Homo sapiens: one gene and its partners. The protein of the gene in region 1 interacts with the protein of each later gene in a biochemical or structural test. Each region holds a gene or a part of one and is shown in the gene's direction. Other genes may lie near its edges.

Region 1 (8,822 bases):
TGGTCTCTGACAAATATTGCTATTAAAACACATACCTTTTGAAAATGGCAGTGTCAAAAATCATCGTATTATATGTGTATTATTATATTGTTATTGTCATTTTAGTTACTTTTTGTTTTACAATTCTTGCATTGTTTTTCACAGAAACTTCCTCTTAGATACCCAGAACGCCTTCAGGTAAATATTCTATTCTGCATTCCAAGAACTCACTCTAATTGTGAAGCACAAACTCCAAATGTGCGCTTCCCTTCTCTATGAAACAGCCTGCTTCACTTTTGCTGACGCATCATTTCTTTAGTTCAAGCACTGTCAGATGGTATTTGCTCTCACAAAACTTAGAGGACGGCACACTGACTTAGATAAACATTTATGTTAATAAAAATCTTATTTTTATTCCAGAGAAATAGTTAATTAAACAGAATGTGTTAACATGTTTATTTTAATGTATTCTTGCTTTTTTCAATGTTACACATATTCAAGCATGTGATTTACAGTTTGGTCTCATTTGATATGTTGAATCTTGAATTAGTTACCTCTACCACAACTTTCTATGAGCACAACTAATCCTACATTCTGTCCTGCAATTGGAATAATACCATTTAAAAATTATTATTTTTTACAGAATCCATCAGAGAGCAGTGAGGTAAGCTCTGTTTATGGGGAGTCAGGATTCTCTCTTCCTTTTGCTCTCTTTCAGTTAGCTGTCATGCATGTTGAATGTCTTCTTCTTTACAATTTTTATTTCCCTTCAAATGCATCCAACAACTCAAGTACCTGGATTGCTCTCTAAATTCTGTTTTGATGAAATTCCTATTTGACTTCTTAGCCATTTTGGTAAGCATAGACTTATTAAATTTACTGGCCTGGTGAAGAAGGAACTAATTAAGGTGTAGGTGTTCTTTAGATTGTAAAATTAGATCATAAAACTAAAACTAATTATTTGTTCTTCTAGCTAAGAAATCTGTTGGTTTACCGAATTAAATGGAGCATTTGTGTTCAAATGAGAATAATGTGGTTTTTTGGTGTTTTTATTATTTTTATAATTCACAATTTAATTTCAATAAGAAATTATCAAAGAAGGAAAGTTTCTCAGGCTTCTTCTGGTAAGTGTTATCCACTTATTCTTAAAAGAAGAAACATACTTTTATGGGAAAAATTATTTAATTTTTGTTTATAAAAATGTTTTTTTCACTGGGTGCTGTGGCTCACACCTGTAATCCCAACACTTTGGGAGGCTGAGGCAGGAGGATTGCTTGAGCCCAGGAATTCGAGATGAGCCTAAGCAACATAACCAAACCCCGTCTCTACAAAAAAAATTTTGAAAAAAAAAAAAATAGTCGGATGTGGCGGCATGCACTTGTGGTTCCAGCTACTTGGGAAGCTGAGGTGTGAGGGTCACTTGAGCATGGGCGGTTAAAGCTGCAATGAGTCGTGATAGCACAAGGGCAACAGAGCAAGAAATTGCCTTAAAACAAAGTGGTTTTTTGTTGTTGTTGTTGTTTAACCTAAGTTAATCAACCCTTCCCTTCATTCAGTCATCCAAACACCCAGAAAGAATATAAAAACAAGATATGTATATGTTAAAGAGCTGCTTTATATTTTAATTTGTACCTAAACGTTTGCCTCTCCAAAACACTCTGCTCTCCTTTCCGTGACGTATGTAGAGGTTTACAATTTCCTCACTCCTTATAATAGAATGCTCTTAACTATAAATAATACATATGTGTCACATTCTCTATAATTTTTGACTTAATTGTTGAATAGAAGAACATAACGTTTTAATTCAAGGACATTATCTAAATGATTTGATAGATAACTCAACTATGAATGAATTTTAACATAACTTTTTTTTTTGTAGCCTATACCATTAGAATCAAGAGAGGTAAGAATGACTCCACAGAATTTACCGTGCAATTAACAAAGAGAAGTAAGTGTTAAGATCAGGAGACTCAGAACAGTGCCTAAAACAAAGTGAAAGTCAAGGATAACAAATTTGAGTGGAACAAACTTAAAAATATTGTTAAATGCACATTTACATACTAGCCTTACACAAAGAAGGAGTAGGGAAACACCACTTAAAGGTTAGAAATGATACAATAAGGAATATTAGTTCATTTGTGAAAAATAAATTTATTTTTAAATTTGTATCAGCACTAATGAATTCTGCTGAGAATTCTGAAGACTACTGATTTGATTGACTTAATTGTGTAGTGAGAAAGACCACTTAAGGTTAGAAATGATATAATAAGGAATATTAGTTCATTCAGGAAAAATGGATTTATTTTTAAATTTGTATCAGCACGATGTGAAGTACAGTTTCTCATAGATTTCCACTCATGTATGTCTTGTTTCACTAATATTGTTTATGTTTTCTTTTTTATCCCTAAGGAATACATGAATGGTATGAACAGGGTAAGAAACATCAATGAAATTTAAATTATGTTAAAAGTTTGTTTTCATGAAAACATATTTTACAAGGTACACTTTATTGATTTTAGCAGAGAAACATTCTGAGAGAAAAACAGACTGATGAAATCAAGGTACCAAAGTTTTTCTTGAAAGAGTATGGCAAAAGTATATATTCTTGTAGTAGAAAAAAAGTTTTCCTTTAGGAAAAAAAAGCATTTTTCTATGGTTTTGTCCTTTCCTTGAACTTTTCACTCATACATTTGTAGTGACTAATGGAGTCTGCTGAGAATTCTGAAGAAAATGATTTCATTGACTTAATTGTGCAACTGTGATGAAACAAGGCATTAGTGTGAATGAATGAAATAACAAATAAACAAATAAATGCAATTATGTATTCACATTTATCACCAAAATTAAAGGAATGCTTTATCAAGGGTATTATATGAAGTAATACAATATCTGGCTCAAGAATATTTACATAGTCATACTCAATTATTTTCTTTAACCATAACATCTTTGATTTGGATTGTCTACTAGTTTTCTAGTAGAATTGGTATTGAGAGAGCAGGTGCTCAAACTTTATGAGATAAAATATATATCTTCTTAACAATCTGTCATACCTAACTGATTGACTGTCTTGGCAGGATACTAGGAATGAGTCTACTCAGGTGAGACCCTTTGTTTTAAAATTATTAAACCAATATGAGGAAAAGAAACAATACATATTTCCCCAAATAAATTATTATTTTAAATAAAAACTATGGCAGATAACTCTAATTCAAAGAAAGAAAAGAAATAGTGTATCATACATTGGCCAGAATAACCAAACCAACACAAATATTTTAAATTTAAATTCTATGGATAATGTCACTGATCTCTGTATTGCTGTAGTCGTGAAAACTGAGCAAAACATACTAGATGGAGCAAGTTCTTTTGCTTAGGTATTTACACACCATTAAATCAGTGCTCTCCTTTAGTCCAGTTGTATTTACTGCATGAGCTTCAGTGCAGTGTCCTGCTCAGAGTCCAGAAGCCAAGTTTTAAAAGAGGGAAAGCAAAAAGTCATGCTGGATAAAGGAAAATGTAAACTTGTTTTCACTGATTTGCTACAATATAGAAGAATCCGAAACGTTTTATTTAAACTTCAAAATGCAGATTCATTTGGCTCAGAGATAAAGTAGGCAGTTTTTTTAGTTTTTCTTATTACTTTTATATTGTCTCAGTTTTCTATTTTCTTTGACATCCATTTTATTTGGTAATCATTACTTTTGTATTTGACTATTTGTCATGAAAAATGAAATTGATTATTTTTTCTTTCTTAAGAACTGTGTTGTGGCAGAGCCTGAGGTAAGACCCATTCATTCTAGTGAACTCTACACTTACGTATCAAACATAGTATATGCAGCATGCTTCATTTTAAAAAGACTGTCTTCTGAAATTAAGCAAAATAAGAAACTGAATTTTAAAATGTTAACATTTTAATTTTAAATTAATCCTATTCTAATTTTAACTTATTGAACTTCTCAAACAGGAATATTATACTCAAGAATGTACAATGTTGTGCTAGATAAAGTTGAAATTGGAAGACGGAATTTAAGCCATTTAAATAATAATTAGTAAAAAAATGCTTATTCATTAAAATATAAAATAAAAACAAAAGGTGCATGGATGTTTAAAATGAGAGTCCCACAGAACACTGACTCTGACATCCCAGGGCATGAGATTACTTTTTTATTTTAGATACAAGTGCATGTATGTATGTAAGATTTTTACATGAGTATGTTAGACACAGGTAGTGAGCATACTACCCAACAGGTATAGGTTGGTGCAAAAGTTATTGTGCTTTTTACCATTAAAAATAATGGCAATACTATTAGGTTGGTGCAAAAGTAATTGCAGTTTTTACAGCGTAATGGCAAAAACCTCAATTACTTTTGCACCAACTTAATAGTTTGTCAACCCACGCCCCTCTCCCTCTCCTTGGGCAGAAAGAATCTATGGCAGCAATTACCTAGGATCAGTGAGCTATACTACCTACTCTACAATTATATTTTTTTAAATGCTGACTTATTACATATGGTTAATCAACCATCCCCAGAGATAAAGTCTGTTGAATATTAAAATTAATCTGTTAAAATATGTATGTATTTGGAAAGTAAAATTATATGTATATATAAATATAAACATAAATGACTTTGAAGAAAAAGTAAATATTTCAAAGTAAATATTTTAAAATCTAATGTAATTTTAATTTCATCTTAAGATTGTGCATTGTATTTAATGTTTCCATTTTATTCACATCAAAGAAGCCCCAAGGACAGATGAGAACAGATGTTTAACCCAGGGTTCTGGGTACCCAGCTAAATATGGTTCTTTCTTAGAGGTTTCATTTTTGTCACAAAAATCTATGCAAATTTTGCATTCTACTCAATGATAAACTTGTGTTTGTTTTCCTAAATTAAAAACAATTGTTTTTAAGTTTTTATGTTCCCAGATAAGTTATTAAACCTACCACCATAATTTTTCAAGTAAAATTCACACTCCAAGAAAATACAATGTAGTACGCCTGAATTTTTCCATACCACTTATTCAGTTATAATGTTACCATGGTAAGCATTTCACCATGATGACATGGAACTAGTTTCCTTCAAATTCTAAAAATCCCAGGGGATAATTAACACTAGATTTCTTTCTTTTAGAAGATGGAATCCAGCATCAGTTCATCGAGTGAGGTAAATAATTTTGATATTAATTCTGTGTCCCAACTAATTTAAAAAATTATGAAAACTTGTACCGTGAGGATTACATATCCCTTAAGGTCTCATTGTACAAGGCAGTGTATATGTGGCACTATTCTAGTTTTAGTATGTGAGTAGCTATCCAAAAGAAGTAAGAAAGCAATTGTTTGTCAGAGACAAATTGACAAAATTATTTCTGGGCAAACAATCTTATCTGGCCATCTGTGATGTCCAAATTATTTTTTTAACCAATTACTTTGTCCTTCGCAGATTTTGTTAAAACTCAATCTTATCATTAAAAATTCTAACAATTACCATGCTTATAAACCCATGAAGTAAACATTTCATAAACCATTTAGAATTTAACCAATTCTAGATTAATCAGACACTGGACTCCTCCAGCTACTCTCCACTCTTTGCCCTGTGTTAATCTTGAGAAAAAAAGTCAGCCTACAAAAAAAGTGGTGCGGTTTTTCCTTTGACTTTGGAAGAAGACCTTCATGCAAGTTACCAAAATAAAACCAACTCACTTAAGTGGGGTTTCTGTTAATTGAATAAAAATCATTACTTCACATCCACCCCCAGCATTCGGAGCAATGTAGTGGTTAAAGCAGTGAGAAAAGGAAAAGCAATGTGATTATAATATGTGGTTCAAATTATTAATCTTGTCTCAGTTTTTTGGGAATTTATCACTAAAATCAATTCACTGCAATTATTTAGTAATAGTTTTGTTGATTCATATTTTAACTTTAAATGTAAATTAATGTCGTGAAATTAAAACTATGCATGTTTTAATTTTTTTAAAGGAAATGTCTCTCAGTAAGTGTGCGGTAAGACATATTTGCTAAATTTAAAATATATTAATATTTTCCAGGATAATTAAAATGCACTTACTTTCACACACACACACACACACACACACACACACACACACACGGGAAAACATGCTATACCAATGCCATCTGGAAAGGTGGCATTAAAGTTTTATCAAAGGCAAATAAATATACCAAGGAATGAGTGAGAATGTTGTATTAATAAATTATTTATCCTTTTCAATATCTGCTAGACTTTATTGTAACTAGTCTGATGGGATCTAGATGTTTTCTTATTCCCCCTCTAAAAATAAAGCTAGCGACTTTTTTTATCCCAGTTATCTAATTCACAGTTTTAGTTGAATATTTGTAATTTATAGTCTCCTTTTGAATCTACATAACATAGTATTTAAGTGGCAGTCTATAGATCTGGTTACACTTGAGTTCAACTCATAGCTCTACCTTTTACACGTATGTGATGTTGAACCGTTCACTTTCCCAGTATAAGTCTATAACTTAATCCTAAAATGGCAATAATAATAAATATTAGATGATGTAAAGCAATTAATGTAATCCATGACACAGAGCAAACTGTCAATAAATGTTGGATAGCATTTGAAAAATTATTTTTCCCTGTCCATTTAATATTCTAATATAATTTGGCCAAAGTTAAATCTTCACAGTCAGAAAACAAAAAAACAGTTTTAACTTTCTTAATAATTCTGATATATTGTAACTAAAATTGGCTGTACTAATTTATATCAGACAGAATTATAATTTAAATTCAAGAAGTTGCTTTTTAAAATGTTTTTAAAAGGGAATAATGGAAGAGATCCAAATTATTTGGGGTAGAAATGGCACTCAGGTGTAATAGTTCCTCATTCTCTACCCTTGGGAAAGAGCATTGTTAGATTCTTGTTTCATCATATGAAAATGATGGGGTTGGACTGAATGACATCCAAGCAATTGAGAATATTTTTCTTTTTAAATAGGAACAGTTTTGTAGACTGAACGAATACAACCAACTTCAGCTGGTAATATTTTATTCATTATAATACAAAATCATATTCTACTATAGAATTAAAACATATTAAATTTTAAATTGGGGCCATTTCTAAATATATTTTTATTTTTCTTAAGAAATTATTTATTCTAGCCTTGACCAATAATTGGCAAGTTATTTGTATGATTGCCGGCATATTTGCGGGCAATGCTCATTCTCTTTATTCCTGGACTAAAGTTCTATATATTATCCATACTTACTAACCAGGGAGAAAGTGACTACATTCTACTGCAAATCCACTTTTAACCTCCCTGATGATACATTATGTCCTGGTTGAGAATTTCACAAATATGCTTACCTGTGAAATCACAGATATGTCAAATAAACTTTCCATTTAAGGAAACAGGATAGATTCTGGGAAAGGAAACAGGAATGCTAAACATCAGATTTGCTTCTGTCAAAACTCACATAATCTGCTTAACACTGGTTTTGACCCTTTTGAGTAACATAAAAGTCTTTCTTTTGGGAGGACAATAAAAACCTTTCAGTAACTACAAACAAATTTGACGTAATGAAGGCTTTGGGAAATGCTTGGTTTTAGTTCAGCAAAATTGCATGCTAGCATTTTTAATCGTTATCAATAGAGGAAGATGAAAATCAGTAATGAATTTAATATGGACCCTAATTGTTACTCTAGTTTCCATTTTCAGGTAACTTGTGTTTAAAATAGTATCCAAATAAATTTAAACACATTAGTACCCCAATAGAATTCATCATTATTGATCTAGAAAATTACCTGAATAATATATTTTAGTACCATAGATATGATATGGCTAGTCTGTAACCTCCACAACTGTTAGAACCTACTTGTCCTCCTGAGAGATTTTGTAGTATTTTACAGTGGTATCTCCAGTATTTAACATTGTCCCTGAACAAATGAAGGTACCCAGCAAATGTTTCTTATTAATGAGTAAATAAAATGAAAATACTAAAACAGAATGTTTTCTCCTCCCTAGCAAGCTGCCCATGCCCAGGTGAGATTATTTATTAAATCTAAAATATTTTAGTATTTCCTTCATGTGTTATGTTTTTATAATGCATGATTCTCTTTTAACATAAATATATTCTGAGAGAGTGTTCTACCAACACTATCTGATAATATTTTACTTAAAAGTCACAAAAGACAAAATTTAAATAATTAATAAATAGCCATAAATAGAAAAATATGTAGTCCTAGAGAAATGGTAGGTTATTATTTTTCCTCAGAGTATGAACCTTACTAATTGTTTATTTTTCCAAACTATAGTGAGCTTAGCCTTTAGCTAAAATTTTTTTCTGACATTAGAAAATAAAAAGTGTTTTGACATTTTTTGCTAACTGTGGCATAGAATACAGTCTATTCTAAATTTCATGAATGATGTTATGTATACTTCTGGTGCAATGTAAGATAAATGTGTTGTACCAGAAGATGTCTAAGTAATTTAGAATGTGTTTCCTTTTATGCAGGAGCAAATTCGCAGAATGAATGAAAACAGCCATGTCCAAGTGGTAATATTTTGCTTAATATATTACAAAACGATAATATTTTGTTAAGCTTAAATATGTTTGCTCTTAAATAGCCCCCTACTCTTGAAGAGATTTTTTTCTTCTCAAACATTTCTCACTCCCAACTTAAATCTCAGTTCTGACAACTTCTAAGCATATGACCTTGAGCACATTGTGTATTCTCTTGGACCTTTGGTTTCTCATTTGTGGAGAAAAACAATATGTGTCTATCAATTTATTTCCTCCTCCAAAACTCCCATGTCTTGATGTTTACAGTGACATATTGTGTCTTCACATTTAAAGATAATAACTGTA
Region 2 (4,569 bases), on another chromosome or scaffold:
TGATCCATAGTTCACTGCAGACTTGAACTCTTGGGTCTCAAGTGACCCTCCCACCTCAGCCTCCCAAGTAGCTGGGACTACAGGCGTATGCCACCATACCCTGCTAATTTGTGTGTGTGTGTGTGTGTGTGTGTGTGTGTGTGTGTGTGGAGATGAGGTCTCACTGTGTTACCGAGGCTGGTCTCAAACTCCTGGGCTCAAGCGATCCTCCTGCCTCAGCTGGGATTACAGGCATAAGCCACTGCACCTGACCAATCTTGACTGGAGTTCATGTTGAGGGGGATGCGCTTGGTTTCTCCAGAACTCCTCTCTGACTCAGATCTTCTCTCCCTCAGCCTGGGCAGAGGAGCAGAATAAGTTGGTGCATGGCGGACCCTGCGACAAGACATCTCACCCCTACCAAGCTGCCCTCTACACCTCGGGCCACTTGCTCTGTGGTGGGGTCCTTATCCATCCACTGTGGGTCCTCACAGCTGCCCACTGCAAAAAACCGTGAGTCTACACTGTAAATGAACAGCAGATGCGACTGAACCCTGAGGGTGTCTTATAGATGTCAGGCAGGAGGTGACATAGGCATCCCCCCCATCCCAGCACGAGGCCATCTGATAGCCAGGTGCATTCGGCTGTTGCTTAATTGAGTACTTAATGTGTGCCAGGCCCTGCGGGCATAGCAGTGGAAAAGAAAATAAAAAAAAGAAAACAAAAAAAAACAAGCAAAATTGCTGTTTTCCTGAACTTACTTTCTAATGGGGGAATTGGATCATTTGGGGACCTGCAGGGCGTGATGGGCATTTGGATTTAATTCTGAGCACAGTAGGAAGCCACTGGGCAGTTTTGTTTTTGTTGTTTGTTTGTTTTTTGAGACACAGTCTCGCTCTGTCACCCAGGCTGGAGTGTAGTGGCATGATCTCAGCTCACTGCAACCTCTGCCTCCCAGGTTCCAGCGATTCTCCTGCCTCAGCACCCCAAGTAGCTGAGATTACAGGTGTGCACCACCTTGCCTGGCTAATTTTTGTATGTTTGGTAGAGACGGGGTTTCACCATGTTGGCCAGGCTGGTCTCGAACTCCTGACCTCAGGTGATCCGCCCGCCTCGCCCTCCCAAAGAGCTGGGATTACAGGCATGAGCCACCACCACACCCAGCCTGATTTACATTTTTACAAGCACCCTGGCTACCACGTGGAACGTGGTCTGGGCAAGAGAGAGGGAGGGAGGCCCACGTGGGGGCTGTTGCTTTCATCCGGCGACATAGGAGGGTGGCTTGAACCCAGGCGGTCGCAGTGGGGATGGAGGGATGTTGAATATCTTGGGATGTGGAATTCTGAGACTGAGCCAGCAGAATCTGGCAACGAGGAACAGGAGGGAGAGGAAGAAGCACGGCTGGCTTCCGTGTATTTGTCCTGAACAACTGGGTGTTTTGCCACGTCTTTCTCTGAGTTGTGGGAGAGGGAAAGAGAAACAGGCCGGGTGTAGGCAGGGGAGCATCTGACATTTTGCTTTAGCCACGATGAGTTGGAGATGCCGGGGAGATGTCCCAGCAGGGAGGCCAGGGAGGACTCTGGAGCTCAGAGGAGAGGTCAGGGCTGGAGGTTAAAATGAAGGCATCGTCAGCAAACAGGTGTATTTAAAGCCATGGGACTAGATGAGATCATCCAAAAAGCTGGCATAGTTGGAGGAGCTGGAGGGCCCAGGACAAAAACCCTGGGCGCTGATCCTCACTAGTCAGATTCACGACAGCTGCCACTTGTTTGATGCTAACTACCAATCAGGTGCTGAGTGAAACCATGTACACACCTTTCCTGGAATGCCCACCACAAGGGACTCTTGGCACCATTTTGCAAATGAGGAAACTGAGGTGCAGGGAAATAGCAAGTGACAATCCCTGGGGTGGTTCCCCTGACCCCAAGGAGACCTTGGATGACTCTCACCACCATCATTCATTCCTTTGATGTACATTGACTAAGAGCACCTGCTAAGTGCCACATTCGAGTTGGGCAGTGGAGATTCAGCAATGGATGGGACACACACGTCATCCCTGCCCTCGGGAGCACAAGGACAGAAAGGTGCAGACAAGCAAAGTGAGGGCTGGGCATGGTGGCTCACGCCTGTAATCCCAGCACTTTGGGAGGCCGAGGTGGGTGGATTACCTGAGTTCGAGACCAGCTTGGCCAACATGGCTCAACCCTGTCTCTACTGAAAATACAAAAAATTAGCCAGGCGTGGTGGTGGGCTTCTGTAATTCCAGCAACTTGGGAGGCTAAGGCAGGAGAATTGCTTGAACGTGGGAGGCGGAGGTTGCAGTGAGCCGAGATCGCGCCACTGCACTCCAGCCTGAACCACAGAGCGAGACTCTGTCTAAAAAAAAAAAAAGGAAAGAAAGAAGCAGCAAATTGGGCTGGCCGTGGTGGCTCATGCCTGTAATCCCAGCACTTTGGGAGGCCGAGGCGGGTGGATCACTCGAGCCCAGGAGTACAAAGCTGCAGTGAGCTGTGATCTACAGAACACCACTGCAGATCCAGCCTGGGTGACAGAGCGAGACCCTGTCTCAAAAAAACAAACAAACAAAAGAAGCAAACCCTTCAAAACCCCATATAATTACAAATTATGAAGGAAAAGAATACGGGTACCTACTTTAGATGGAGGAGGGTCAGGAAGGACTTTCTAATGAGATAAAATCCAAGCGGAGGCATGAAGATGGGAAAAGGAATGTTCAGGGCAGAGGAAAGGCTGTGATAACACCCCTGAGGTGAGAACCGTCTTGAGTATTCTCAGAAAATAAAATTTCCCGTTCACTGGGGGGCAGAAGGTGCTGGGAGATAAGGTTGGAAAGTGACTACAGCCAGATCACACAGGGGCTCCAGTGCCAAGTGGAGGAGCCCAGGCTTTATTCTTAGGACAATGGGGAGCCATGGGTGATGTCTGAGCAAGGGAGTGACTCTCTGTTTCAGGAATATGTATCAAACACCTATCCTGTGCCAGGTGCTGATCAACGCACTGGAGATACTATATCTGAATAGAACAAAAATCCCCATCTTGACATCCTAGAGCTGCACTGTCTAATATGGTAGCCATCAGCCACATATAGCAAATTACATTGAAATTAATGAAATGGAAAATCCACAAGCCACATTTCAAGTACTCAGCAGCCACCTGTAGCTTGTGGTTCCCCCAGCCACCTCTGGACAGTGCAGATCGAGATCATGGCATCGTAGCATTTAGTGGACAGCATTGCTCTGCAAGGAGGAGAAATAACACAATGAGTAAATATTTAACAATAAATATATAGCAGGTCGGATGATTGTGATAGGTTCTCTGGTGGAACAGAAAGCAGGGGAGGGAGATAGGAATTGCCTACTAACAGGTATTTGTATTTTAATTGGGCAACTAAGGAAGGCTTCCCTGAGAGGCGACATTTAAAGGAAGTGAGGGAGTGAGCTATGCAGATACTTGGAGGACAGACTTGCTGGCAGAGGGAACAGCAGTGCAAAGGCCCTGAGGTGGGAAGATCACTATTGTGTTCAAGGCAAGACAGGGAAGCCAGCGTTTGGCTGGAGCAGAGGGAGAGAAGGGGAGAGTGGGAGGAGAAGATGTCTGTGAGATGATGGGGCAGTGCTTGCAAGGCCTGGTGTGCCACGTTGAGAACTTTGGCTTTGATTCTGAGTGAGATGGGAGTCATAGGAGGGGCTGAGCAGAGGAGGCACAGGACCAACTTACATTGTTAAAATATCTCTGGTTGCTTTGTGGAGGATGGACTGTGGGGGACCAGAGACAGAGCAGGGAGCCCAGTGAGGAGGCTACTGCTCTAGTTCAGGTAGGAAGTGAAAAGGCAGCTCAAACCAAGATGGTAGCCGTGGGAAAGGTGAGATGTGGCCAGATTCTGGATATGCTTCAGAGAGGCAAAAGGAATTCTGGACAGCTTGGATGTAGGGCATGAAATAAAGAGAGTGAAGAATAGCCCCCAAGATTATTCTGAAAGGATGGAATTGCCATTTACCCAGCTGGGGAAGACTGTGGGAGGAGCAGGCCAGCGATTCATGACTTCCCAGCCCTCTCTGAAGCCTCAACTGCAGCCCAAGGGCTCCAGGTGAGACCCAGCCCTCTTCCTTCCCAGGAATCTTCAGGTCTTCCTGGGGAAGCATAACCTTCGGCAAAGGGAGAGTTCCCAGGAGCAGAGTTCTGTTGTCCGGGCTGTGATCCACCCTGACTATGATGCCGCCAGCCATGACCAGGACATCATGCTGTTGCGCCTGGCACGCCCAGCCAAACTCTCTGAACTCATCCAGCCCCTTCCCCTGGAGAGGGACTGCTCAGCCAACACCACCAGCTGCCACATCCTGGGCTGGGGCAAGACAGCAGATGGTCAGTAGTGGGAGGCTGGTGGGGAGCAGGCTACTGGCTACTTGGGGAAGTGTGCCAAAGGATGGGGAGTGGGAAAATTGGTGAGGGGCCATGGGAAGATGGGCTAATGGTGAGGACCAATGGGACAGGGTTTCAATGGGAGAAAGGTCAAGGGGGAGGGAGAGTGAATTTGGGAGCTGGGCCAGTGAGTGAACAGCCAATGGAAAATGT
Region 3 (8,822 bases), on another chromosome or scaffold:
CAGGAGTTCGAGACCAGCCTGACCAACACGGTGAAACCCCGTCTGTACTAAAAATGCAAATATCAGCCGGGCTTGGTGGCGCGCGCCTGTAATCCCAGCTACTCGGGAGGCTAAGGCAGGAGAATCGCTTGAACCTGGGAGGCGGAGGTGGCAGTGAGCTGAGATCCGCCACTGCACTCCAGCCTGGGCGACAGAGCGAGACTCCGCCTCAAAAAGAAAAAAGAAAACTAAGAAGGGAAGATTTTTCCAAGAATTGGAGACTTCATTCCATCTGAGGAGTGCAGTGTAGGCCCAGTGGTTAAAAACCAGACTGCCTAGGTTCTCAAATATCAGGGCCATTGCTACTTAGCTGTGTGACCTAAACTCTCTAAGCCTCAGTTTTCCCGTCTGTAAAAGGGGGATGATGGTATTTTCTAGCTTGTGAGTTTACGGAGAAGAGTAAATAAGACAATTTGTGTCAAGTGCTTACTACAGTGTCTGGCAGGTAGTAAGTGTAGTAAGTAGCTTTTACCTGTCACTGTAAAGGGACTAGCTGGTATATTTGGGGCTCTTCTGTTCTAAGTAAAATTTATAGTCAAGAATTTGACTGTAGACAGGGCTTTAGAGTAGTATCTTTGTAGTTGTTGTAGGGTTTTGTTGTAAGTCATTTGGCTTTACTGGCTTGGTGGACCTGGGGCTGAAAGTCCAGTACCAATACTAGTTCTCCTCCGTGGTATTCTCAAAAGTTCACCTGCAGTCTTAGCAGGGCATGTTTTTGTCCTTCTGTGACTTTGAAATACTTGGCTTTGGTTTGCTATTGCGGGAGGGTGTATGACTTGAAGAAAGAATGCAAGATTGGAAATTTGCTTAGATTGATTAATCAACTGATTATACAGTTAGGTCCCCGTGAGGTGACTTTTCTTTAAAAATAAAAAAAAGCCTAGTTATGTACTCCTTTGTGGAATACAGAGAAGAGAAATACACATTTAAGGAGGAGCATGGGTTAGTTTCTAAGTAGTTATGGGTGAAGTGCCTTGCAATTTGAGGATGAAACAGGTGGCAACTCCTTTTCCATACTGCGCGTCCTTTTCCTACTCACTCATCCAGAGTGAGTCCTTGTTTTTACTATTGTCTCTATCTCTGAACATACATCTTTGTGTCACATAAGTAAAGACATATGTATGTATGTATATATACTTTACTTCACATAAGTAAAATATATACATCTTTACTTCACACTCTGTTAAAGAAAGGGATGATTTTCTTTAGGAAGTGAGTTTAAACCCTTCCATAGGACTTGGATTTGTAGTAGGCAGAATTACATCTCCCTCTTCCCAAGGTGCCATACCTTGATCCCCAGAATCTGTAGCTATCCTGTGTTACATGGCAAAAGGAACTTGGCAGGTGTAATTAAGGTTAAGAATCTTAAAATAGAAAAATTATCCTGGATTTTCTGGGTGGGCCGAATCTAGTCACTTAAGTCCTTAAAAGCAGAGAACTTTCTCCAACTGGGATCAGAGAAATGGGCAGAAAAGGAAATCAGAGATTTGAAGCATGAGAAGGACTCCATTTGCCTTTGCTAGAGAGGACCACATGGAAAGTTTATCAGAAGGAATGTGGGCAGCCTCTAGTGGCAAAGACCAGTCCCTGGCTGACAACCAGAAAGAAATGGGGACCTCAGTTGTGCAACCAGAAGGAACCTGAATTTGGTCAACAACCTGATTGAGCTTGGAAGTGAATTTCCCAGTTTCCACCAAGGAATGCAACCTTGAGACACCTTGATTTTTGGCCTCGTGAGACCCTAAGCAAAAGACCTAGCTAGCCAAGCCCACCCAACTTCTGACCTACAATAACTGTGAGATAACAAATTTGTGTTATTTTTAGCTACTACATTTGTGGTAATTTGTTATGGCAGCAGTAGAACACTAGTATAGATTTTGGTACCAGGAGTGGGGTACTATTACCTAAAAATGAAAGTGGCAGTAGATAAAGGTTAGAATTGTTTTGAGGGGCATGATAGAAAAGGCCTGGAACACAGGAGGATCGCTTGAGCCCAGGAAGTCAAGGCTGCAGTGAGCGGTAATGGCACCACTGCACTCCAGCCTGGGTGGCAGAGTGAGACCCTGTCAAAAAAGAAAAGGCCTAGGACATACTTTTAGTAGCAATATGGATGTTAATGACTCTGCTAGTGAGGGCCCAGACAGAAGTGAGGTCTTTCTTATTGGAAACTGGCAGAAAGGGGATCCTTGTTACATAGTAGCAACTAAGTTTAGCAGAATTGTATCCTATGGTTATATGGAAAGCCAAATTTGCAAGTGATGAACTTGTATATTTAGCTGAGATTTCCAAGCAAAGTATTAAATGTGCAGCCTGGTTTATTTGTGAATGTGAACTTTAATGGAGTGGACCCATGTGGAATACTTCCACAGCCCATTAGGTTCTTGAGAATTTTATGCCAACATAAACAGTTCTAGTTTGGATTGAAAGAGACAGAAAGTAATAGGGCTGTTGGACCCCCCAAATTCTACTGATAGGAAGCAGGCTGATAAAACTACTCACATGTGAATGTGTTGCTTTTCATAAAAGAATCAGGGTGACTCAGACGGAGATAGGAGAGCCCAGAGGGGTGGAGCTAAAAGCTGGAGAGGATTTTTCCCAGGCTTTGAAATGGAATGGAGATTCCCTAGATTTTGAAACTGCTTTGGACCGGAGGCTCTGTTTTCTTTTACATTTTGCCCATTTGAACTGGAATGTCTAACTGTTATTCTCTACATGTCTCACAGTGGTATGTTGGGAGTAGAGAACTTGTTTCTTTAGGAATTGTGCCCCAGGAATTGGACTTACTGTTTTGTCCCCAGAACCTCATCCACACCTGAATAGATGAATGAGATTTGGGACTTCTGAAATGATAAGCTTTAGATGGGAAACCTTTGGGACCTTGGGATGGGATGGATGTATTTTGCATTTGAGAGAGAGATGAATCCTTGGAAACCAGAAGGCAGACTGCGGTAAGCAGAATGGCTCCCCTACGATTTCCATACTATAAACCCTGGAACATGAATATGTTAAGTAGATTTAATTAAAGTTAAGGATCTTAGGTAGATTATCTTGGATTTTCTGGGTGGGTTTATTCTACTCACATAAGCACTTAAAAGCAGAGAACTTTTTCTGGCTGGTGTCAGAGATGAGGCAGAAGGGGAAGTCAAATTTGAAGCATGAGAAGGACTCAGCCTGCCGTTACTGGAGGGGACCAGATTGAAAGTGTGAGACGGGGAATGCAGGCAGCCTCTAGTAGGAAAGGCCAGTCCCAGCTGACAACCAGCAAGGAAGTGGGAACTCAGTCCTACAGCTGCAAGGAACTAAATTCAGCCAATAGCTTGAATGAATGTGGAAGCAAATTTTCCCCAGAGTTTCCAGCAGGGAACCCACCCACTGGATACCCTCATTTAGCCCTTGTGAGACCCAGTCAAGCCCACTGACTTCTGTAAGATAATCCATTTGTGTTGTTTTGTTTGTGATAATTTGTTATGACACAATGGAAAACAAATACAGGGGTTTTGCTGGTTTTATTTTAGAGTCTTTGGGATATCATTTTCTAGAGAACAAAGATAGCAAAGATTCTATAAAACAATTTAGTCCTGGAAGACTCCACGGAATAATGGTGTTGAGTGGAACCTGTGCCTGTTTCTTGATGTTTGAATATTATTATTGTCCTTAGATGCAGTTTGAAGGGGCTTGATGGTCAGCTTAGTGAGATGTAGTTTCTGAAGGTCTAGGACATTGGTAGGATTTCTGTAAATAGGTGGTTCTTCCATATCTTGGATAAATGACATAATTTCTTCATTAGTTTTTATTGGCTTAATAATGGGTTTCTATGACAGCCTTTTAAGGCTTATTTCATATTTTTTTAGAGGAGATGGAAATGGGTGATACATTTTTGTGAATTTGTAACTGTCTCTCTGTTCTCTCACACCTCCCACCCCACCCCAGCTCAGCTCAAACTTGTAAGATCTTTTCTCCCTGTCATTGTCTGTTGAGGTTGTTGAGTTTAAGAGTCAGATCTGGGAATCATCACTACAGAATGGAGTTTCTAGCTTTTAAGAAAAGTCTTTTCTTTTTGTTCTTTAAAGTATCCTATTAATTGGATTCATAAAATATGGACTAACTAAACTTTAGTCAGAGGATGAAGGAAGTGAGACCATTTCTTTTGAGTTATTACCTGAATAGAAAGATGATTACAAGATTAGCATTTCAGGGTATGAAAGACTTTAGAGGTTATGTTTGACTTTGGGTTTAGAGTAAGGGAAATTGGGCCACATGAATGTTAACTGGTCTACTAAGATATCTCAGCCCTAGAGCTAGTCTAGAATCCTGGTCCAGCCAATAGAGAATCATGACTTTTGAACTATGTTCCCTGAGTACCCTTTTCTACTGTTGGCCGGGCATGGTGGCTCACACCTGTAATCCCAGTTCTTTGAGAGGCCGAGGTGGGCAGATGACTTGAGGTCAGGACAAGACCAGCCTGGCCAACATGGTAAAACCCCATCTCTACTAAAATTAGCTGAGTGTGGAGGTGCGTGCCTGTGGTCCCAGCTACTCAGGAGGCTGAGAATCACTTGAACCTGGGAGACGGAGGTTGGTTGCAGTGAGTCAAGATCACGCCACTGCACTCCAGCCTGGGGGACAGAGCAAGACTCCGTCTCAAAAAAAAAAAAAAAAGATGTTAACTGTCTATAATATTCAACTATATGACAACTTTTGCATAAATATTACAGTATGATTTGTACAAGTTCAGAAACTGAAAACCAATATGATTTGCCATTGAATTAGGTAAGGGCTTAGTATTTTAAGGTAATAAATAATGTGATACTTGATTTGAAATGAGAAACTGGGTTTTGATCTGTCACAATTCGTGGGTAACCTGGATAAGGTTTGTTTCATGAGAGTATTAATGTGTTCTTATACCTGAATTTCTTTGAACTTCTGAAATGGATAATTTCGAAAGTAGCATGTCATTTAGTTTATAGAGAAATCTAGGCCAGCCAGCTTTTCAAATGAAGAAATTCCTCTAGGATTATTAAGGAAAAGTAGCTGCTGTCATTGTAACAAAGGATGTATTTTCATTGGGTTATAGACAATTGGTAGTTTTCTTACGTTGAGTGCTCCCAGATGTACTTTTTTTTTTTCACATGTAGAAGTCAAAGATTGAGTCTTTTAAAAAGTTTAAGGTGAAAGCATTCACAGTATCACAAGATACTGCTAAGAGTGGCATTTTAACTGGTTTCTACAAATTCTGTCTTTCAGTCTTAGACATTAAAAAACCCTACGTAGCAACAGTTGCTATGGTCGGCAAGCTTCTTTACATTCGTGGTGATAATGTTTTCTTGCATAGAAAATATTGTGTTATCTGAGGTGACAGTTTTAGGGTTAAATACCAAGGTACAAGTTAGATTAATGTTTTATAATTTTTTATGTGTGACATCTTAAATGCCCTTATATTGGCTGCTCTTTTCTTTTTATACTTTCTTGTCTTGTGGGTTTTTCTGACAGGTTTTTATTAGCTGAAACATTTTAATTTGCTTGGAAAAGTGAACATTTGAAATTTTCCTGAAGTTATGACTAATGCTTTAATGGGCATTTCTCAGTTTAGCTATCTCATCAATGTTCTATAAATTTTAAGAAAGCTACCCTGTTTAAAATGAATGGGTAAATTATTTTCCAAAAAATGGTATCATGTCATATCCAGAAATACGAGATGGTCATTTTGGGTTATTGAATTCATAACCACTCAGAAGATGTTGTTCATTCAGCAGATCCTGAGCGCCTGCCACGTTTCTGGCAGGCGTTGTGCTAAAGATCTCCAAACTGTCACTGCCCTCCAAGCTCAAAATTGAGTGACGTTTTCTGATAACAGGCATATCATACCACAACTTAGTAGATTTTGGAGGTGTTTTCTTATAATAACTCCTATTTGCTTTGTATCTTAGGTGTAGTTTTTGAAACAGCTGCAGAAATGAGAAGGGGGTAGAATAGAGAATTAATTGAGATTGCGGGTAGGGAGGGGAAGGCAATAGGTTAGTGGGAAAGAACTCCCACTTTGAGTTTGGGGAAGTTTACTTAACCTCTTCAAGTCTGGGAGTTCTTGTCTCTACAGTTCGGATAACAACTACCTTGGGCAACTTACTAACTTTTGGTTTCTTCACCTGTAACATGGGAATTAGTAGTACCTACCTCAGGATTTTTGTGAGGATTAATAACTAGAGTACTAGCTAGTATTATCTCAGGATTATTGAGGATTAAAGGAGAAAATTGATAAAATGTCTGGCATGTGGGTGCCCAACATTAGTTCTTTCCCTTCCCTTTCGGAGAAAAGAATGTGTTTATTGCCAGTGCTGTCATTCTTCATTCTTTATTTTCATTTTCTGCTGCCAAGAGTTCTTATTTTTTTAATGAGACTTTTGACCTGTACTTCCTTGTTTCTAATGTAGCCTGTTGGGTGGGTGAGGTATGAATTGCTGCCTAGGGGTGGATCAGTATGTAAGTCACGCCCAGTGTAGATTACCTCAATTACTCGTGTACAGTGTCTATTACCTAGTCCTGGTGAGTCTAGGATTCTTTTGCTTCTAGATAGAGAAGGTAATATTCCCATCTCAGACTCAGGAAAAGGTCTACCTTTGCTCACCTATAGACTTGTAAATATAGATCAGAGGTCTTACTCCCAGTGGTTCTCTGATCACAGTTTGGGAATTGCTTGAATATTGTGTGTTAGGGATATGTTTGGAGAAGGCCAGCTCCCTGCATTAACATCTTCTCTATGTCTTGCTCTCTCAGGTAATCCACTAACTTGCTTTCTTGTTTGCTTTGTATTATTAAGTGATAAACTGTAGGCAGACCAGGAACTTGTATTTATCGGCACTTTAAAACTTTTTTTTTTTTTTTTTTTGAGATGGAGTCTTGCTCTGTCGCCCAAGCTGGAGTGCAGTGGCGCAATCTCTGCCTCCTGGGTTCAAGTGATTCTCCTCTCTCAGCCTCCTAAGTAACTGGGATTACAGGTGCATGCCACCCCACCGGGCTAATTTTTGTATTTTTAGTAGAGGCGGGGTGTCGCCATGTTGGCCACGCTGGCCTCAAACTCCTGACCTCAGGTGATCCACCCGCCTCAGCCTCCCAAAGTGCTGGGGTTACAGGCGTGAGCCACCGCGCCCGGCCAGTGTTTTGTGTATTTATGATTATATAGAATGGCTACAAATGGCCATCTGCTTTGGAGTTGTCTACCTTTTGTGAAAAAATGAAAATAGACTATTGCCTAGCAATTAAGTATTCAAGCATGTATTTTGCCACATAATTTATTGTGAGAAGGTTATCAATGTCAAATAAAATGCTTTCATTATTTGCTTCTATTTGTCTGTCTTCCTGACCAGTTCATTTTTCCTTCCAGTGAAGCCATCTTGAGCTAGGGTTTTCTTTGTGGGTAGTTGTTAATTTTTTTTGTAGAGACAAGGTCTCACCATGTTGCCCAGGCTGGTCTCAAACTCCTGGGCTCAAGCAGTCCTCTTAACTCAGCCTCCCAAAGTGCTGAGATTACACTCATGAGCCACCACACTGGTCCGAAGAAATTTTTTTTTTTTTTTTTTTTTTTTTTTTTTTTGGGAGATAGCATCTCACTCTGTTGCCAGGCTGGAGTGCAGTGGCACGACCTTGGCTCACTGCAACCTCCACCTCCCGGGTTCAAGCAATTCTCCTGCCTCAGCCTCCCAAGTAGCTGGGACTACAGGCGCACGCTGCCACGCCTGGCTTTTTTTTTTTTTTGTATTTTAGTAGAGATGGGGTTTCACTGTGTTTCCCAGGCTGGTCTCTAACACCTGAGCTCAGGCAATCCACCCATCTCGGCCTCCCAAAGTGCTGGGATTGCAGGTGTGAGCCACTGCACCCAGCCTGGTCTGAAGAATTTTTAAACACCACAGCTAAGGACCTGAGCATTCATCTGCAGCTACCTATATGCTCTTGTTACATACAGTTGTTATACTAGGGGGTTTTTCACAGCCATCTTTTATGACTGTTTTTGGAAAACATCACATTGACCTTCATACATATTCAAAACTTTAGGCTTTGTTGCATCTGGAGTCCAACACTGAGGCCCACAGATGTCACCAGCCCCCAGCCAGCAAGGTGGGGCATGTCTCAGTTGTCTTCCTTTCTCCCTTCAGTAGCCACACAGAAAAGCTTTTCCATCATTTAAAATCTGATTTTTATACAATTGTGGCCTGGTGGCCAGCCCATTCAGGTAAAAGAATAATGAAGAAACCTGATTATTGAAACTCAGTATCCCACCCCTACCTTGCCTCCAAATTTAAAGCAGTTCATTTTATTATAGTGTTTTGGATAGGCTGTTAATAAATCAGTTTGGAGAACTAAGGAAATAGTATTAAATTTAGTGAAAAGAACCTATTTAGGCTTTGGATCCTAAACAGATCTGGCTTCCACCACTTAGTAATCCTGTTGTTTTTGGCAGATTATTTAACCTCTGAATCTGTTTATTTCTAAAATCAGAATATGCATCTGATACTGTGCCTGGTTTGTAAGAGGCATTCAAATGGTAACAGTAGTTATTACATTCATAAGTGCTGAATTTTTCTTTAGATTACTGTATATCCCAAATGAAGTTTTCCATCTTTTGGTTCCAGAGGGTAATAGCCAGTGGAGTAAAGTTTCACATTGTGACTTTATTTTGCTTATATGGCGTGGTAAAAAGGTGTATAGATGATGACTATATTGTAAGAGACAGTACTGGAATTCCGATTTCTCTTAGGTGTTTGGGGTAGAACTATTAATCCAAATCAAAC
Region 4 (7,931 bases), on another chromosome or scaffold:
GGTTCTCTATTTTGGAATTGTTAACACATTTTATAGTATATAAAAATATGATGGATTAGCTCATAAGTATTAAAATATTTGCAGATATTAGAAATCACATCTTTTTGTCTTTTAGCTGACACATGAGCTACTAGTACCTTTCCCATGATTCTTTTGTTAAAGTATTTACATTTTCTTCATTTTGAAATAGTATTGAATTTTGATAGCAATATTGATAGATTTGACTACTGATTTCATAGTTGTAAAGTTAACAGTGTGGCAATAGAAAGGCAGAGGCCAGTCACATTTTCAGACGACTAAAACAAAACCCTTTTATTAATAGACAAACCACTATTTAGTAAATGTGGGTTGCCTTAAAAACAATTATTTTTTACTAAATTGTTCATGCCTATAATTAACTCAATTTAAAATACTTTTGTGTTTGTTTAGTCAGTATAATTTTAGTAACCTTTTCATTTTCATTTAAGTTTAAAGTGAGAACAGGATAGTGTATGGAAATAGTGAATTAATGCTCTCTTCAAATTACTTTTTTCTGTGACCCTTCTTATTCCATTTATTAAATTTAAAAAAGTGTTTTCTTTTTACATTTTAATTAATCTGTGAAATTGGAATTAAAAGTGCTCATTTATAGTGGCATTAGAAAAGTAAATATAAGTGAAAGTACCTTGTATGTATTTGTCACACAGTAGGTAGTCAATAAATATAAGGGCCTGAATCTTTTCTACTACTTTTACTTTTTTGGAGTTCATATTGTGTTGATGTTTACGGAGTTATATTTGACTATGTTTATATTTTTATGGTGCTTGAAACTAAAGGATTTAAATGAAAAACTGTATAGAAAAATTATGCAAGTTAGAGTTGAAAGTGTCTTTAAATTTTTATTTTATATAAATATAAACTAGTACTATATCTTGATGATGTTGGGTTTTGTTATAGGCTTTTTTTTTCTTTTTGTTAAAAGTTACCCTTTAGAATAGTAATTTTTGGAAAACTAGCCCTTGATGCTATATGTGTATGTTTTTTTGAAAAATACCCTTAGGTGAACTTGCTTTTCTAGGCCGCCATTCTTTTATTTATAGAATTGAAAGTTTGGTTGCATGATTGTTACAATCTTCCCAGGTCTCCAAATGCATATTTACCTCTGTCTCAGTGCTATCTAGGAAGGAAACCTCTTCCTGGAATAGTGGGTAGAGATTCACAAAATAGTGTGAATAATTGTGGTAGTAGATCTCTAGTTGTTTGGAACTGGCCACAAAGAGTTGTATTTGTTGAGTAGGTTAGAAACATGTCAGATAATAGCTACAGGCACACAGCAGCAGCAGCGATATTTAAAAGATATCAGATATGTAAATTAGTCTGTTATTCTTGTGTTCTAGAAAATGAAAGACACTCATATGGAAGATTTTCCCAAAGACAAAGAAACAAACCGGGATTTCCTACCAAGTGGAAGAATTGAAAGTACAAGAACTAGGGAGTCTCCACTAGATACCACAAATTTTTCTAAAGAAAAAGACATTAATGAATTCCCACTCTGTTCACTTCCTGAAGGTGTTGACCAAGAAGTCTTCAAGCAGCTTCCAGTAGATATTCAAGAAGAAATCCTTTCTGGAAAATCTAGGGAAAAATTTCAAGGGAAAGGAAGTGTGAGTTGTCCATTACATGCCTCTAGAGGAGTATTATCTTTCTTTTCTAAAAAACAAATGCAAGATATTCCCATAAATCCTAGAGATCATTTATCCAGTAGCAAACAGGTATCCTCTGTATCTCCTTGTGAACCGGGAACATCAGGCTTTAATAGCAGTAGTTCTTCTTACATGTCTAGCCAAAAGGATTATTCATATTATTTAGATAATAGATTAAAAGATGAACGAATAAGTCAAGGACCTAAAGAACCTCAAGGATTCCACTTTACAAATTCAAACCCTGCTGTGTCTGCTTTTCATTCATTTCCAAACTTGCAGAGTGAGCAACTTTTCTCCAGAAACCACACTACAGATAGCCATAAGCAAACAGTAGCAACAGACTCTCATGAAGGACTTACAGAAAATAGAGAGCCAGATTCTGTTGATGAGAAAATTACTTTCCCTTCTGACATTGATCCTCAAGTTTTCTATGAACTACCAGAAGCAGTACAAAAGGAACTGCTGGCAGAGTGGAAGAGAGCAGGATCAGATTTCCACATTGGACATAAATAAGCATATTCAGCAAAAAGGTCTGAAAAGCAAGGGAATACCATTATTTTCGGATTAGCGGTTTATTAAGCTCTTCTATATTAAACACTAATAGATATTCAATAACGGAGTAAACTGTTCCAGATAAAGCAAGAATAGTTGCAAGAAGTAAATTCTGGCACAAAGCGTAAAAATATAACAGAAGAAATAATGTAAAATACTATCTTTTATGTCTAAAGCCATTTTATATTACTTTTCAATAAAAAGAATATCATGGTCAACATAGAATATTTTTCATGAATTGGTGGGGAGATGTATATGTTTATATATAAAAAATAGCCAAATCGTTGCAATGATATGGTAAAGGACACATTTTTTTTTTTTTTTTCCTGTGAAATGTGGAATATCTCAAATTCAGCCTCTTAGGCTGAATAGCAAATCCTACTGCCAACTAACCTATTAAAAATATAGATAGTTTTGACTAAAGTACTACATTACATTTAGTATGTTGACTTTTAAAATACCAAAGCAATTTATATTCAATTAATGCTTCTTCATACACCAAGAATCTACCACAATACACAGCACACAAAGGCCGTTCAATAAACATTGAATGAATGAATGGTTTGGCTAGGGCCAGGGTGGGGAGTTAAAGTGAGAGGAGGGTATATGTTATAGAGAACAGTGGTAGAAGGAACTCTCCGTGCAAGTAAATTAAGGGAAAGATGGACACCAGAAAGGCAAGGTGATGGGCCTATAAGCATACTGGATAATGGAAGAAGTCCATTTCTTTCTAGCTAGTTTGAAGGGCCTAAAAGCACTGAGATGTTTTTGTATCTTCCCTACATTTGGAGATGATATTAGGTTGTCATAACAACCACAAATATAGACCATTACTAAATTGGTGGATGTCCTCTTTCTCCCATTGTTATTGCCTTCCTCTTTTGCCTGCTAAACTAAAAATTGGATATAAGATTGAGAATGTATTATATAATTTGCAAGACATAGAGGATGTTTATAGAATATACTAAAGTATCCCTCAGCACCAATATGGGAGTATCCTGGTCTCAAGTTTATAATTTTTGCACATATAATCTAAAGAAGAGACTTTAAAAATAAAGTACACAAATATGAACCAAAGAGTAGCTTAAAAATACTTTCTTCTAGGTCTGAAATTTTCTTTTCTTTCTTTTTTTGTTTTGGAGACAGAGTCTCACTCTGTCGCCCAGGGTGGAGTACAGTGGCGCAATCCCAGCTCACTACAACCTCCGCCTCCCAGGTTCAAGCAATTCTCCTGCCTCAGCCTCCTGAGTAGCTGGGATTACACGCATGCCCTACCACACCCAGCAAATTTTTGTATTTTTAGTAGAGATGACATTTCACCATATTGGCCAGGCTGGTCTCGAACTCCTGGTCTCAGGTGATCCTCCACCTTGGCCTCCCAAAGTGCTGGGATTACAGGTGTGAGCCATTGCTCCTGGCCCCAGCTCTGAAATTTTAACTTAGTTTTGGATTCCTTGGAATTTGAAAATATGCTAACACGAAGGATTGTAAATAGGTAGTTTGAGGTTATCAGGAACAGTAACTTGAAGCAAGAACATCAGAAATTGTTCACCATGCAAATATTTAGTACTCTGAATCAAGGAACATAGTATTTTTTACATGAGTATTCCAGTAAGGTAATTAAACTTATGAAAAGGGTATATAACTTTTTGTAAATCATTAAAACATTTTATAGTCCTTGTAATGATTTCAGGACCTTGGACAGCTAGAAGGGGCTTAAGAAAAAATGGCTAAGAAAACAAAGTAAATGGTTTTGGCCAGCTTAAAAAGAGAAAGCAAAATAGTTAAAAATACATTTCATAGATTGAGAATGTACGGGCTATGTCACAGTTACGCTACTTATTTTGTGGTTTTAAGTTAGTCTCAACATCTTTGGGCCTCAGAATCAACTTTTTTATGGGATCTTTTTTCTCTGTTTTTAAGATTATCTCTTTTTTCTTTGGTGCTTTGCAGGTTTACTGTATTATTTGGAAGTGCGAATTTATTTTTATTCTTAGTATATACTGGCTTCTTCCTGTATCTTTTAATTCATGTTCTGTAAAATTCTCAACCACTAGCTCTTCAAATATTTCTTCTCTATTCTAGGACTGTATACAAATGATAGACTTTCTTACTGTATCCTTCATGTCTCTTAATTTCTCATATTTTTCATCCTCTTGTTTCTCTTTACTGCATTTTGGGTAATTTCATCAGCTCTATCTTTCTGTTTACTAGTTCATTTTTCAGTAGCATCTCACCTGCTATTTAAAACAATGATGGTTTTAATTTCAATAAATATATTTTTCATTTGATTCTTTTTAACTTCCCGTTTACTCATTACAGTCCCTTGTAAGTCTGTTTCTAATTTTTAAAAGTCAAATATATGATATTTTTGATAATTTCAATATTTTAAGTCTTTATAAGTCTACATTTAAGGTTATTATTGCATATCATTGTGACTTATTTCCTTGAGTATGTGTTAATCTGCGAGAAGACAGAGGGCCTAAATTGTGTATGTTTTCCTTCAGTATGATTTGAGTTCGTTGCTTCTCTGGGTGAGGTGGTACAAACTCCTTGGCATACTCTATTCACCTTTGTGGATCCTGATTGAATGCCTTGTCTTAAGTGTAAGCTCCCTGACCCTTACTACTAGCCGAAGGTTTTGTCTCTGCAGGTCAATTCCAAACTAACAGGCAGATGCTGTTAGCTATCTGCCTCCAGGGATAAACCCCATCTTTCAAGCTTGCTTCTTGCTTGATGCTTTCTGCTGCTTTCTTGCTTTTGTTTCAGCTCGAGTTTGTTGTTGTTTTTTTTTTTTCCTGTTTCTGTCTTGAATGTAGAGGGTATTTTTATTTTTATTTTTTCTGTTTCTCTCTTGAGTGTATAGTGTAGAGGGGGTTTCTGTCTTGAGTGTAGGCCTGGAGATTTCCCTTATATGGTACAAACCAGCAATGAATTAAGAGGTCTCTTTTCTCCAAGATCTAGTGTTTTGTACTAGGAGAACTCTAAAAAGTATCTATTCCACTGTAGTGCCAAAGTACAAATTTATTTGGATTTATTTTTTGCCATCTTATTTTTTAATATATTTCTTTTTCTATGTTGTGCTTCTTTCCCACCTTTATCTCTCCTCCTATCTTTTGGGATCAGTTGGGTTTTCTATTTAATCATATATTTTCCCTTTACTGATTTGGAATGTGAATGTTACAAGTCCTTTTGATTATCCTTAAACATCTAAAAATGCTACCCTCTTTCCAAACAACACAAAGGTATTGAAATAACATTAATTCTAATTAAATTCCACAAGTTCTTTATTAAATCTCCAAATTGGATATTATTAGTATTTTATATAGTCAATGTTTATTTTTTTGATGGGACATGGTGGGGGCTTACCTTTTTTCTTGTGTGTCAGATGTTCCTTCTAGGTAGAATTCTTTATACCTTCTGAAATTATGTCCTTAGAGCTGTAGATTTAGAACTGACATCTCTTGAGCTGTTCTAAGATAATATCTTTTACTTTGGAGATACGCAGTTTTTATTATATGTCTAGCTATAGATTTATCATGGATTTAGGTTCATTATGAATCTGCAGATTTGTGTCTTCCATCAAATCTGGATTGTTTTCAATATTAAAAAAACTTCTATTTTAAAATCTGTATATAGAAAGGTACATAAACATAAATGAACATGTTAATGAGTAATTGTAACAACTATGTAACTGTCCAAGTCAAGAAATAAAACATATCAAGTAATCAAGAAGTCCAGAGTTTTCTTTGGGGTTTCATTACGTAGGCATGATTTATTAAAACCTTTACTGTGTGCTTGAACTTAATCTCCAGTTTCCCTCCTCTGTCTGGACATCAGGCTGGCTCAAAGTCTCAACACCCTAATCATGGTTGTTTTTTTGAAGTGAGCTACCTCCATCCTAAATCATCTTTTTAGCATTAGCTGTCTAGGGCCCACTGTGGGTCACATCATTAGCATACAGTGTCAGGGCTTACCATGAATAATGAAGGCACTTCTGTTGTTTAGGAAATTCCATGGGTTTTAGGAGCTTGGTGTCCAGGAACCCTGAACGAAGACCAGACCAATTATACTACAGAATCTTTTTTTTTTTTTTTTTTTTGAGATGGGGTCTCGCTCTGTCGCCCAGGTTGGAGTGCAAAGGTGTGATCTTGACTCACTGCAACCTCCATCTCCTGGGTTCAAGTGATTCTCCTGCCTCAGCCTCGAGTAGCTGGGATTACAGGCACCTACCACCACACCCAGCTAATTTTTGTATTTTTAATAGAGATGGCATTTCACCATGTTGGTCAGGCTGATCTTGAACTCCTGACCTCGTGATCTGCCCGCCTCAGCCTCCCAAAGTGCTGAGATACAGGTGTGAGTCACCACCCCTGGCCCTACTACAGAATCTTTTAAAATAAGTTTTGAGATGTATTATGGCCCCAAAGTGATCTACTTTAGTAAATATAGGTATGACTTGACTGACAATGTGGTTATGCTCAGATAAGCCCATTGTAAATTGAAAATATCATGAGTGAAATACATTTAATACATCTATGAAACATCATAGCTTAGCCAGGCCTACCTCAGACATACTCAGAGCAACTCACGTTGGCCTACAGTTGGGCAAAGTAGTGTAACACAAAGCCTGTTGACAGAGCCTGGGCCGGGCGTGGTGGCTCATGCTTGTAATCCTAGCACTTTGGGAGGCCGAGGCTGGTGGATTGCCTAAGCTCAGGAGTTCGAGACCAACCTGGGCAACATGGTGAAACCCTGTCTCTACCAAAATACAAAAAGTTGACTGGGCGTGGTGGTGCACGCCTGTAGTCCCACCTACTGGGGAGGCTGAGACAGGAGACTCGCTTGAACCTGGGAGGTGGAGGTTGCAGTGAACCAAGATCCCACCATTGCACTCCAGCCTGAGTGACAGAGCAAGACTCCATCTCAAAACAAAACAAAAAAAGCCTGTTTTATAATAAAATGTTGAATATCTCATGTAAGTATCATACTGCATATCAGTCACCGAATGGAATTAACAGCAGATACTGCTGGAGAAAAAATTAGTGCACTAGAAGTCAGAGCAATAAATTATTCAGAAAGAAACAGAGAAAAAATAATAAACACAGCATCTGTGAGCTATGAGACAACTTCAGGCAGGCTAATACATGTCTTATTCAAGTCCCCAAAGAAGAGAAGAGGGTGGGAGATGTAAAAAATATGTGAAGAAACAATGGAGAAATTTTTCCAAATTTGAGGTTAACTATAAACCCACAGGTCCAAAGAGCTTGGCAAATCCCAGGTACAATAAACGTGAAGAAAACTATACCAAGGAGTAACCTAATCAGAGCTCTTAAAACCAGTGATAAACACCATCCCTTGAAAAAGACATACTATTGCAGAAAAACAAGCAAAGCCAACAATTTTGAAAATATTGGAAGCCAGAAGACAGTGGTCTGACATCCTCAAATAAAGTAAAGAAGTGGGGGAAAAGTTGGTTAACTTAGATATCTTAAAAAAAAAAGGAAAATAAGAACATAAGGCATACATATGAAAGAACTCATGCCCGGTAGACCTACATTACCCATAAAATTAGAGGAAGTCCAACAGGCAGGAAGAGCACACCAGATGGAAATACAGATCTACACACAGAAATGAGGAGCACCAGAAATATGAGTATATTTAAAAGCTTTTTTTGTTTCTTATTTCTAAGTGTCT

The links.
Region 2: of the proteins of CSN1S1 (region 1) and KLK6, one has a biochemical effect on the other in vitro, tested with the Homo sapiens proteins (one study listed by IntAct).
Region 3: the proteins of CSN1S1 (region 1) and CSNK2A1 form a complex in vitro, tested with the Homo sapiens proteins (2 studies listed by BioGRID, with this or other methods).
Region 4: the proteins of CSN1S1 (region 1) and POLI form a complex in vitro, tested with the Homo sapiens proteins (one large-scale study listed by BioGRID).

Annotation. Positions count from the first base shown.
Region 1 is NC_000004.12:69,934,068-69,942,889, forward strand, and holds part of CSN1S1 (alpha-S1-casein isoform 1 precursor), read left to right. Parts: intron 1-144; coding exon 145-177; intron 178-622; coding exon 623-643; intron 644-1,858; coding exon 1,859-1,882; intron 1,883-2,388; coding exon 2,389-2,412; intron 2,413-2,498; coding exon 2,499-2,540; intron 2,541-3,053; coding exon 3,054-3,077; intron 3,078-3,732; coding exon 3,733-3,756; intron 3,757-5,108; coding exon 5,109-5,141; intron 5,142-5,953; coding exon 5,954-5,977; intron 5,978-6,951; coding exon 6,952-6,993; intron 6,994-7,978; coding exon 7,979-7,996; intron 7,997-8,468; coding exon 8,469-8,510; intron 8,511-8,822. UniProt on the Homo sapiens protein: Important role in the capacity of milk to transport calcium phosphate. Casoxin D acts as opioid antagonist and has vasorelaxing activity mediated by bradykinin B1 receptors.
Region 2 is NC_000019.10:50,963,092-50,967,660, reverse strand, and holds part of KLK6 (kallikrein-6 isoform A preproprotein), read left to right. Parts: intron 1-164; exon of another isoform or gene 165-335; coding exon 336-492; intron 493-3,150; exon of another isoform or gene 3,151-3,233; intron 3,234-3,994; exon of another isoform or gene 3,995-4,105; intron 4,106-4,111; coding exon 4,112-4,359; intron 4,360-4,569. UniProt on the Homo sapiens protein: Serine protease which exhibits a preference for Arg over Lys in the substrate P1 position and for Ser or Pro in the P2 position.
Region 3 is NC_000020.11:533,840-542,661, reverse strand, and holds part of CSNK2A1 (casein kinase II subunit alpha), read left to right. Parts: intron 1-8,822. UniProt on the Homo sapiens protein: Catalytic subunit of a constitutively active serine/threonine-protein kinase complex that phosphorylates a large number of substrates containing acidic residues C-terminal to the phosphorylated serine or threonine.
Region 4 is NC_000018.10:54,292,273-54,300,203, forward strand, and holds the end of POLI (DNA polymerase iota isoform a (long)), read left to right. Parts: intron 1-1,376; coding exon 1,377-2,195; 3' UTR 2,196-5,962; downstream 5,963-7,931. UniProt on the Homo sapiens protein: Error-prone DNA polymerase specifically involved in DNA repair. Plays an important role in translesion synthesis, where the normal high-fidelity DNA polymerases cannot proceed and DNA synthesis stalls. Favors Hoogsteen base-pairing in the active site.